Homo sapiens: one gene and its partners. The protein of the gene in region 3 interacts with the protein of the main gene of each other region in a pairwise test. Each region holds a gene or a part of one and is shown on either strand. Other genes may lie near its edges.

The links.
Region 1: the proteins of NRIP3 (region 3) and EFHC1 interact in binary tests that used the Homo sapiens proteins (3 or more experiments, as listed by UniProt).
Region 2: the proteins of NRIP3 (region 3) and KASH5 interact in binary tests that used the Homo sapiens proteins (3 or more experiments, as listed by UniProt).

The regions. Positions count from the first base shown.
Region 1 is NC_000006.12:52,454,774-52,458,427, reverse strand, and holds part of EFHC1 (EF-hand domain-containing protein 1), read right to left. Parts: intron 1-3,654. UniProt on the Homo sapiens protein: Microtubule inner protein (MIP) part of the dynein-decorated doublet microtubules (DMTs) in cilia axoneme, which is required for motile cilia beating.
Region 2 is NC_000019.10:49,415,309-49,418,583, reverse strand, and holds the end of KASH5 (protein KASH5), read right to left. Parts: intron 2,911-3,275; exon of another isoform or gene 2,426-2,910; intron 1,570-2,425; coding exon 1,505-1,569; intron 1,429-1,504; coding exon of another isoform or gene 1,426-1,428; coding exon 1,318-1,425; intron 1,216-1,317; coding exon 1,074-1,215; coding exon of another isoform or gene 1,033-1,073; 3' UTR 594-1,032; downstream 1-593. UniProt on the Homo sapiens protein: As a component of the LINC (LInker of Nucleoskeleton and Cytoskeleton) complex, involved in the connection between the nuclear lamina and the cytoskeleton.
Region 3 is NC_000011.10:8,983,473-8,987,089, forward strand, and holds part of NRIP3 (nuclear receptor-interacting protein 3), read right to left. Parts: intron 2,379-3,617; coding exon 2,239-2,378; intron 653-2,238; coding exon 600-652; intron 498-599; coding exon 403-497; intron 89-402; coding exon 73-88; 3' UTR 1-72.

The DNA of each region.
Region 1 (3,654 bases), on a different chromosome or scaffold from region 3:
CTGGATATTAGACATTTGTCAAATGCATTGTTTCAAATATTTTCTCCCATTCTGTAGGCTGTTTCCTCTGTTGATAGCTTCTTTTGCAATGCACAAGCTCTTTAGTTTAATTAGGTCCCAATTGTCAATTTTTGTTTTCATTACATTTGCTTTTTTTTTCCCCCTGCTCTGAGACAGGGTCTCACTCTGTCGCCCAGGTCTATGATCCATTTGGGGTTAACTTTTATGTATGGTGAGGTAAGGGTTGAAGTTTATTTATTTATTTACTTTTGCATAGGCTATTGAATTGTTCCAGCACCTTTTGTTAAAAAGACAATCATTTCTCCACCAAATTGCTTTTTTACCTTTGTCAAAAATCAAATGACCTCATATGTGTGCATCTATTTCTGGACAATTTGTTCTATTTCATTGATCTGTATGTTGATCTCATCAGATTGTAAAGTCTTTGAGATATGGGGCTTATAGTAGTTTCAGATCTCCATTGCCTAGCATGGTGTTTCCTTCATCTATATGGATGTTCGATTAATATTATTCGAATGACTGAGTGAGCCAACAAAGATGCACAGAAAGTGAGGAAATACATTCAACTTTCTGGAACACTAAAGGTCTAAGGGGTGTTCAAGATTCATCTAACAGGCAAGGGCAAGATCAAACTATGAAAGCCAGTCTGAAGGATAACTAACATATTTAGACTTTCAGAACCTGGTTCCTTGGGTTCAAGAGCTGAGTAGAAAGCTTTTGTTAAGTCAAAAGATGTCCTGTTTTGATATTACCTGCCACCTATTGGTAATATGCAATTGCCCTTGACGAAGAAATAACTTTCTGAATTTCTGATATTTTAACTCCATCCATTATAAATATATAATTTTGATTTATCTTAGCTACTTAAAAGGAGGCCCTGGTTGAGAGGACTTCTGAAAGTTACTCCCATAATTTCCTATTACTGTCTAATACAAACTCTCTGCCTAGCCACCATCTCTTGGGCGCCCCCAAACATGCCATACTTGTTCCTAATTCCCAACTTTTGCTCTTGTTCTTCTTTCTAGTGAGCTCTTTGTTCTCTGCCATTCTAAATCTGAGTCTAATCCCAGCTCTTCCACAAAGACTTCTTTAGTTTTTCAGGCCCACACCTTTGTCCTTCTGACCTCGGTCTGCATGACTTAACTAATTACATAATCAGATAATCTGGTATACTCATGTTATTACTTAACAGCTTTGTGTATTTTATATGCCTTGTCTTCTTAATGACACTAGAAATGACTGAAAGATAGGATTCTAGGAATGGGAGTTACATTTTGTCCTCCATAGCATTTAGCATGTGAAATGGTTCCCATAGCAGATTATTTACCTCTTGTTTAATTGAATTTAATAAAAATCACCCATTGGATAAATGCCTTTGAGAGTCAATTAGACATCATTCTTTTAACACTACCCTTCTAGTTAAAGGAATTATGTAGCTGATGGGAACATAGCCTTTTCTGTACCTCATGACTGATACCTTTTTTCTTTTTTTGAGATGGAGTCTTGCTCTGTTGCCCAGGCTGGAGTGAAGTGGCGCAATCTCCGCTCACTGCAGCCTCTGTCTCCTGGCTTCAAGCAATTCTCCTGCCTCAGCCTCCTAAGTAGCTGGGACTACAGGCACCTGCCACCATGCCCAGGTAATTTTTGTATTTTTTAGTAGAGAGGGGGTTTCACCATGTTGGCCAGACTGGTCTCGAACTCCTGACTTCAGGTGATCCTCCCACCTTGGCCTCCCAAAGTGACGGGATTATAGGCTTCGGCCACAGCGACCAGCCTGTTTCCTACTTTTTAAAAGAACCCTATATATGCCACCAGGCTGCCTCTCCATGCAACTTTGATAAAAAATTTTTAATTGGGAAATTATAGAAGAGGATAATTATATATTAAGTTTTCAATATAGGTCACATTGATAAAGCAGAGACAAACCTGGAATCTGTCATTTAAAGGGATTTAGTTTCAGTGAGACTTTTCATGCCACCCTGAATATATTCCTATCCATTTTCTTTATCTATTGTAAATCTAATGTTTGTTAGCTCCGAACTGCATGGATTTCAGGCTTGTTTAAGCATTCTGAAAGGCCAAAATTACTATATTAGTCCCATTGTCATTGAACTCTAAGACGGTTCTGTAGAGAACTGATTATAAGAATATGTATAGTAGGTAGAAGCCAAACTATGTTGAACTAGGGCACAGATCCAGTTGTTTCTATTTGAGAATACAAGCTGAATTAGCAGTATTTTCATTTTTTTAAAAAAATATATAACATAAACTTTCCTAATTCTAAAATGATGACAATTTTCACTCCCTTTTATCCTTTTCCCCAATCTCATTCTCCTCTCCTCACATGCAATCATTCTAATGCAGCTATGTGACTGAATGTGTCCTACGTGTACTATGTTTTGCATGTGTTATAGCATTATATATCTAATTTCATGTATTTTTTCCTACACAGCACTATGTTTTTAAGATCCATCCACTTGCTTTCTGTGTACATCTTGTTTACTGCTTCTAACTACTGTATATTAATCAAAATGTACCTTCACTACATTTTTGCTTATCCATTCTCTCAATGATGGAAACCTCCAACTCCTTGCCCACAAATAATACTGCATTTTTCATAAAAAAGCACTGTGCAAGTGAAGCAATATGTACAGACACGTTGAATTTAGCCTCAGACTACACATTTATTTATAACCTCTAATGTAGACAAACTTCTTGCTCAATACCTGAAATTTCTTTTTCTTTTTTTTTTTGAGATGGAGTCTCACTCTGTCACCCAGGCTGGAGTGCAGTGGCACGATCTTGGCTCGCCACAACCTCCACCTCCCGGGTTCAAACAATTCTCCTGCCTCAGCCTCCTGAGTAGCTGGGACTACAGGTGCACGCCACCACGCCCAGCTAATTTTTTGTATTTTTAGTAGAGATGGGGTTTCACCATGTTAGCTAGAATGGTCTCGATCTCCTGACTTCATGATCCACCTGCCTTGGCCTCCCAAAGTGCTGGGATTACAGGTGTGAGCCACCGTGCCCAGCCCCAATACCTGAAATTTCTTATATCCTAATTCCCAAAAAATATAGTAAAAAGAAAAAAAAATCAGTGAACACATTTACAGAATCCTGTCAGCCACCCAAACATAAGAGCTATCAGTCATTACATGTGACCAAGATGACATTATTCTAAGAGAAATGTAAAAACTACTAAGACAATAACTAAAGCAAGCCTACTCATCCCAGGAAACAGTGAACAGCAGGTATTTGCTGCCATTTTGTTGCACTGCCACTCTCAAATATGGTAGGTAACTTTTTTTCTTTTTCTGGAGATAGGATCTCACTGTTGCCCAGGCTGGAGTGCAGCACCACAATCACAGCTCACCGCAGCCTCGACCTCCCAGGCTCAGATGATCCTCCCACCTCAGCCTCCCAAGTAGCTGGGAATACAGGTGTGCGGCACCAAGCATGGCTAATTTTTGTATTTTTTGTAGAGAGGAGGTTTCATCACGTTGCCCAGGCTGGTCTCAAACTCTTGGGCTCAAGCAATCCACCCGCCTCAGTCTCCCAAAGTGCTGGGATTACAGGAGTGAGCCATCATGCCCAGCCCATGCTAGGTAATTTTAAACCAGTAAAGAATGAGCT
Region 2 (3,275 bases), on a different chromosome or scaffold from region 3:
GGTTGGGGTCTCGCATGTGTTTTTTTAATTTTTTTTTTGTTTTTTGTTTTTTTTTTTAAGACACAGTCTCACTCTGTCTCCCAGGCTGGAGTGCAGTGGCACAATCTCCACTCACTGCAACCTCCGCCTCCCGGGTTCAAGTGATTCTGTGCCCGGCCCAAGAAGATTGTTCTTTATTGACTTAGGATGCAGTTGGGACTGGGTCAACCTAGGCTGCTACCCGTGGAGGGGTGGCAGGACAGAGTCAGGATCCTATCGGGGGAGGGCAAGGCAGAGCTGTAGAGAAGGTAGGAAGGAGAAAGAAATCAAGGAGAAGAGGTATCCTGGAGCCCTTCGAAGCAGCTTGGCCATGCATGCCAAGGCCACTCAGCAGCTGCACACTGGTGGTGGTGTGTAGGTGACTCCCAGAGTGTTTGTTAGGTCCATGGCCTGCAGTGTTTTTCAGTGTGAATGAGGTGTGTGGCAAGGCACTTTCAAGGTACCCAGTCCCCGCAGAGGTACTTGACCTCCCAGGTCTCCCAGCCTCCCTTACAGTTAAGGGTGGTCACACCAAACAGTCTGGCTAGTGAAACAAACACAAGTCTGCTGGTGGCTCTGGGCAGGCAACTGCTTCTCTTTTATTATGAATATGATTTGAATCTACCCACTGCACACTGAGGCTACTGCCTCTCTTTATAAAAAGGAAGGAAGAAATTTCCGTTTCCCGCAGATGTGATGTAGGAAGCTACAACTGCCAACTCCTGAGCATGAGGGAGGGGACAGGAGAATCACTGAGGCCCTGACCCCAAGGCAACCGAGACTTAGCTGTGTGCCCACAGCTGCCCTCGCCAGGCTTGTTTTGTGAGGGAATAATCCTTAGTGCTTAATCCATTACTGGGGGAGTTTTGCTATTGTTAAGAAATGTCAGCATTAAAAAACTAGGAGACTTCACATAAAAATACAGGGATGTGGATCCCCTGTACTCTATCTAGGGTAAGCCTGCGCAACAGTGGACTAACAATGGGGATCCCAGTGGAGAGAGGGCCAGGGGATTTATTGAGCTAGACACTGCTCTGAGGGGCAAGTAGAGCCTCTCACACTGGAGGGGGCTGGAGGTAGCAGAGCTGGAGGTGGGGCCAGGTGGGAGGTGGGGACGGGCCAAGCAGCAGGACAGAGAGCAGCAGCAGCAGCAGCAGGCCCAGGACAGGAGCTGGGATCAGTGGATGTCGAGTGACTCTGGTGGGGAGGTGGGAGAGCATTTAGGGCAGGGTCTGGGCAGCCCCTGCTCTTCCCAATGTCAGACCACCTCCTTCCTTCTGGAGACGCCTGGGGGCACACCTGAGCCGCTGTGGGGGCAGGCAGAGCTGGCCCCAGGCCCTCCTCCTGACTGGGACCAGCTTTTTCATCACAGGCACCAGGGCTTGCTGGAGTTCCCGCCGCGCAGGTCTGCTGGGGTGAAGGAGGGAATCACCACTGGGTTTTTCCTTGCCCCAGTGTCCCTCCTGGACCCTGTGGGTCCTATTACCTCTCTGGAGGGTTTTCTGGGATGTCTCCAGGGCGAGGGGCTCCTAGAGGGACAGGGAGATCAGCCTGCAAGGACAGAAGAGATGCGTTGGAGGCACCGGGTTCTGGACTGAGAGGTGCTCAGGTCAGCCCACTGGACACAAGTGGCCACATAGAAAGTGGTGGAGCTCAGGAGATAAGTGAGTGCACTTCTGCTGCCAGGTCGGGTTCCCATTTCTGCCAGCTTCTGGCTGAGGGTCCTTGGCATGTCACCACACCTCTCCGTGCCGCTCTTTCCCCATCTGCTGGCCAGGGATGTCCCCACCTCATAGGGTTAACATGGAGACTAAATGAGTGAATGTAGGAAAAAAAAGGCGGGGGCAATAGCTTGGACAGCGCCTGGTACATAGTGAGTGCTCAATGTCTGTGTGAGCTATTCAATATCATCACCTCCGTTTTCCATTGGATTCTGGAAGTATCTAAGCTCTCTGAGGGCAGAGACCACATCTTCTACAGGTGCCCACCCCTGTGCTGGGCCTCATGAAGAATCCTGTCTTCCTGCCTATGCCAGAATCGGCAGGCGCTTTACTAATTAAAAACATGCCATTACAGGCCAGGTGCAGTGGCTCATGCCTGTAATCCCGGCACTTTGGGAGGCTGAAGCGGGCGGATCACAAGGTCAGGACATGGAGACCAACCTGGCCAACATGGCGAAACTCCGTCTCTACTAAAAATACAAAAATTAGCCGGGCATGGTAGCACGTGCCTGTAATCCCAGCTACTTGGGAGGCTGAGGCAGGAGAATGGTGTGAACCTGGGAGGTGGAGCTTGCAGTGAGCCGAGATCGCACCACTGCACTCCAGCCTGGCGACAGAGCAAGACTCCATCTCAAAACAAAAACCAAAAACAAAACACCATGCCATTATAAATGGTATAATTACAAATTTATTTTTCTAATTGCTCATGGTTGCTATACTGAAATATGATTTTTTATTTTGATCTTTCACCCAGCAACCACACTAAATTCACTGATTAATTCCAACACTTCATCTGAGGATTCAAAGATCAAAGCCCCAGCTGTTCCTCCAGGGCCAGGCCCCACCCACTGCACCGCCTCATCCCCCATGTCTCCCCGGAAGGGCCTCCCCTCTATGGGTCTTTGGCTTTCCTACCCCCATACCTTTTTAACACAGATGAGGATGATGAATGACAATGATAATGGCAGTAAATAAAAACAGAACACCAATCACAATCAATATCTTCACCTCTACCACCTGCTGTGCCAGGCAGGGACCCAGGCCCTTTATGACATAGTCCTTAACCCTCCTCCCCACCCTGGGAGCAAGGAAGAGATTATGCCCATGTGAGCTGTGAGGAAGCTGAGGTGGAGCCCCAGTCTCTGCAAGGGAGTGTAGTATGTTGAAGGAGGTGGGCTTCGGGGCCAGGGTGCTGGGAGCTGAGTGTCCTGGAGGCAGCCATCTTGGCCGGTTTGGACCCTGAAGAGCCCCAGGGGCCCTGACAGTGCCTGACCCACAACAGGCAGACTCCAGCCCAGCTCCTGCATTCCTCAGCTCACAACTGAGGGCTCCTCACCTCTCCTTACCAAGTTTCTTTCCCCGTCCTTGCCTGAGAATGGAAATCTTAACCCCCACCGGGCACTGGGCTCTGAGGAGCAGAGGAACTGGCCTGTGTGGCTGCAGGCAGGGGGGCTGCGGGCACTACGCCCCCAGGGAGTTCTGAGGCTGGCTGGGGAGGGCCGGCCCAACCTCTCCCGAGTGTGGGCGCATGTGCGT
Region 3 (3,617 bases):
CAAACCCAGTTTTCTCTATCTGTCAACCCGGTGTGTATGCATGCACACGTGCAGACATGCTGCAGGCTGTAGTTATGCTTCTGAAGTGCTGAAATGAGAAATAAATATCAGGAGAAATAATGCCAAATTCAAAAAAAGTTAAGCTGAAGGCAAGTAAAATTTTGCTTTCAAAGCTAGTCATTTCCCTACCACTCTGTGTGGCATCACCATTGCTCATTCTGATGTGTGCACTACAGAGTTTTGTGGGGTGATGAACTCTGGGTGTGGGGAAGGGTGGATTTGTAGTATAATTGAAAGCCAAAGACAGGATACAACCCCATGTCCTGTCTGAGAACCACCACCACCCTGCTCGCAGCTGATGACAAATGGATGTGACTTGATCTGACCCATTTGGGCACTCACTTGTCTTCATTCAAAGAGACTGTCTCCACAAAAGGGATTTCTTCCTTGTCTGTCTTCCCCATGATCAGCCGGTGCTTATCCAAGTTTATGATGCACTGAAAACAGGTAACTTGTCAGTGATACCACTATGAGTTCCTGTGTAAGAGGATACCTGCCTCAGAGAGGAAGTATCAAGGGGTAAGTGGAGTCAATCTTACCTTCAGAGATCGGAGAGTCTGTAGACCAAGGGACAAGTTTTTCTCATTGTCATCTAATAAAAACAAAAAAATGATTAAGATTTAGCCATTTCCATGCTTGCTTAGAAGTTGGCCTAATCACTATTAGGTTCCATCCATCCATCCAATAACATCCAATAAACATATATTGAGCATGTGTTATTTTTTTTTTATTTTTTTTTTATTTTTTGAGATGGAGTTTCGCTCTTGTTGCCCAGGCTGGAGTGCAGTGGCGCAATCTCGGCTCACTGCAACCTCTGCCTCTCAGGTTCAAGCAATTCTCCTGCCTCAGCCTCTGGAGTAGCTGGGATTACCAGCACCCACCACCACGCTTGGCTAATTTGTGTATTTTTAGTAGAGACAGGGTTTTGCCATGTTGGCCAGGCTTCTCTCGAACTCCTGACCTCAGGAGATCCACCCGCCTCAGCCTCCCAAAGTGTTGGGATTACAGGCATGAGCCACCGCGCCTGGCCGAGCATGTGTTATATTAAGTAATTTTCCTAGATCATTAAACTTACAAGGCAATAGAGCCAAGATTCAAACCCAGGTCTTTTTTACTCTAAAGGACAAAGGCCTTTACACAAAAACCAAGAACTTGGAGTAGTCAAGAGTAAAATGTAGAGAAGTGTGGAAACTGGTGGGAAATTATCAAGGGATTTATGGCAAAGGAGTAAGTAAGTTGCTCTCTGTCTCTAACTAGTTCATGGAAAGCTCTCAAGGGACATTTTCACCTATACATAAAAATGTGTTTTCTTGCTCCTTTTTTTTTTCTTTCTTTTGAGACGGAGTTTCGCTCTTGTTGCCCAGGCTGGAGTGCAATGGCGCGATCTCTGCTCACTGCAAGCTCTGCCTCTCGGGTCCAAGCGATTCTCCTACCTCAGCCTCCCAAGTAGCTGGGATTAAAGGTATGCGCCACCAGTCCCGGCTAATTTTGTATTTTTAGTACAGACGGGGTTTCTCCATGTTGGTCAGGCTGGTCTCGAACTCCCAACCTCAGGTGATCTGCCCGCCTTGGCCCCCCAAAGTGCTGGGATTACAGGCGTGAGCCACTGCGCCCGGCCTCTTGCTCCTTGAATTTTTTTTTTTTTTTTTTTTTTTGAGACGGAGTCTTGTTCTGTCGCCCAGGCTGGAGTGCAGTGGCACGATCTCAGCTCACTGCAAGCTCCGCCTCCCAGGTTCACGCCATTCTCCTGCCTTAGCCTCCCGAGTAGCTGGGACTACAGGCGCCCACCACCACGCCTGGCTAATTTTTTGTATTTTTAGTAGAGATGGGGTTTCACCGTGTTAGCTAGGATGGTCTCGATCTCCTGACCTTGTGATCCGCCCGCCTCGGCCTCCCAAAGTGCTGGGATTACAGGCATGACCCACCGCACCCGGCCGAATTTTTTTTTTATCTGACCACATTTGTTTTACTGATTGATTCTCAACATGTCTTGAATGTAGCTCAGGGCCCATCTATTACTTTGGAGAGCAAAAATTGGGACAAGGTCTACAGTACAAAAAAATGGGAACCATTTTGAAAAAGTCAATATTTACAGGCATGAGATGACATGAGGTTTTGTTGGGGGTAGGGAGAGGGTTTCCGTTAGGGTCCATAGGTCCAGCCCTCAATTCTGCTTACCAACCACAGCTGCTGGGCAGTCCAGGCGGAGGGAGCCCAGTGTGATCACTAGGTGCTCAATCTGGCCCACTACTTTGAGATGCCGGGGTAGAGAAAGCTTTTCTCCTTCATGCTTGTGGGATTTGACATGCTCCTTGAGTCTGTACCAAAGAGGAAGATACCAAAATCCCCTTGACAGAGATTCCTGGTAGAATCCTGCAATGCCTACCTTCTGACCTACAATTGGAATTCTCCAGGGATCTCCTGGGATTAATCTACCGAAAAGTGCTAGCCATCCTACATATGTTGTTCCAGCACTTTGTCCTAAACATGCCAGGGAGATATAAAAACACTAAAGACTCATCTCCCGTTCTCAAAAACCTTACATCACTTATGTGTATTGGTGAAGAGAGGAGAACTGATATATTCAGAGAATCCTATTCTGTATCCTACTATCCCCACTATTGTGTGAGGCAATTGAGTTGACACATCCTTTTACCCATCTGTGAGTAACAGATACTAGAGAAGTCAGATTAATCCTAATTTTATAAGGTGCTTTGTTCAATGTGTAATTTTCTCATTGTCCTTTCTATTTCACTCTGTCTTCATCAGTCTGTCTTAGACTATAATGTTAATGGAGGCAAGTACTTATTTGGTAAGTGCACTGATATTCATATCAGCAAGGAATATCATGGAGAAAATCCTTGTTAATTTAACTTGTCTGTGCAGGGGAGGAAGGAAAGAAACAGTACCAAGGTTTCACATGTTACATAAGCTGATTGGAATAGCTAGCACCCGAGCTATTATGGGTTGGTGGATAAATACTTAATTATGAACTTTCTGTGCCAATACTTCTGCTTTCCTCTATTTCCTCTCTTTTGGTGTTATAGCCCATCCAAAAGAAAAATAATTGCAGTTTTACAGATGGTTATTAATTCCTCTGGAATCATGGCAGTCTGCTGCCTAATTATGCACCAGGACATTGTTAGTCTTTCTGGAACCATCATGTTGCACTATACTTCATATTTTTACCACACAAAAGCTCAGGGCTGGGTGCAGTGGCTCACGCCTGTAATGCTAGCACTTTGGGAGGCTGAAGCGGGCAGATTGCTTGAGCCCAGGAGTTGAAAACCATCCTGGGCAACATGGCAAAACCCCCTCTCTACAAAAAATACAAAAAATTAGCTAGGCATAGTGGCGCACACGTAGTCCCAGTTACTCGGGAGGCTGAGGCAGGAGGATCACTTGAGCCCAGGAGGCGGAGGTTGCAGTGAGCTGAGATTGCACCACTGCACTCCAGCCTGGGCAACACAGTGAGGCTCCGCCACACAAAACAAACAAAAGAAACTACTGGCTAATTACCCTTATGATGGCCCAGGCCCAGTAGCAGCTGCAGTCCT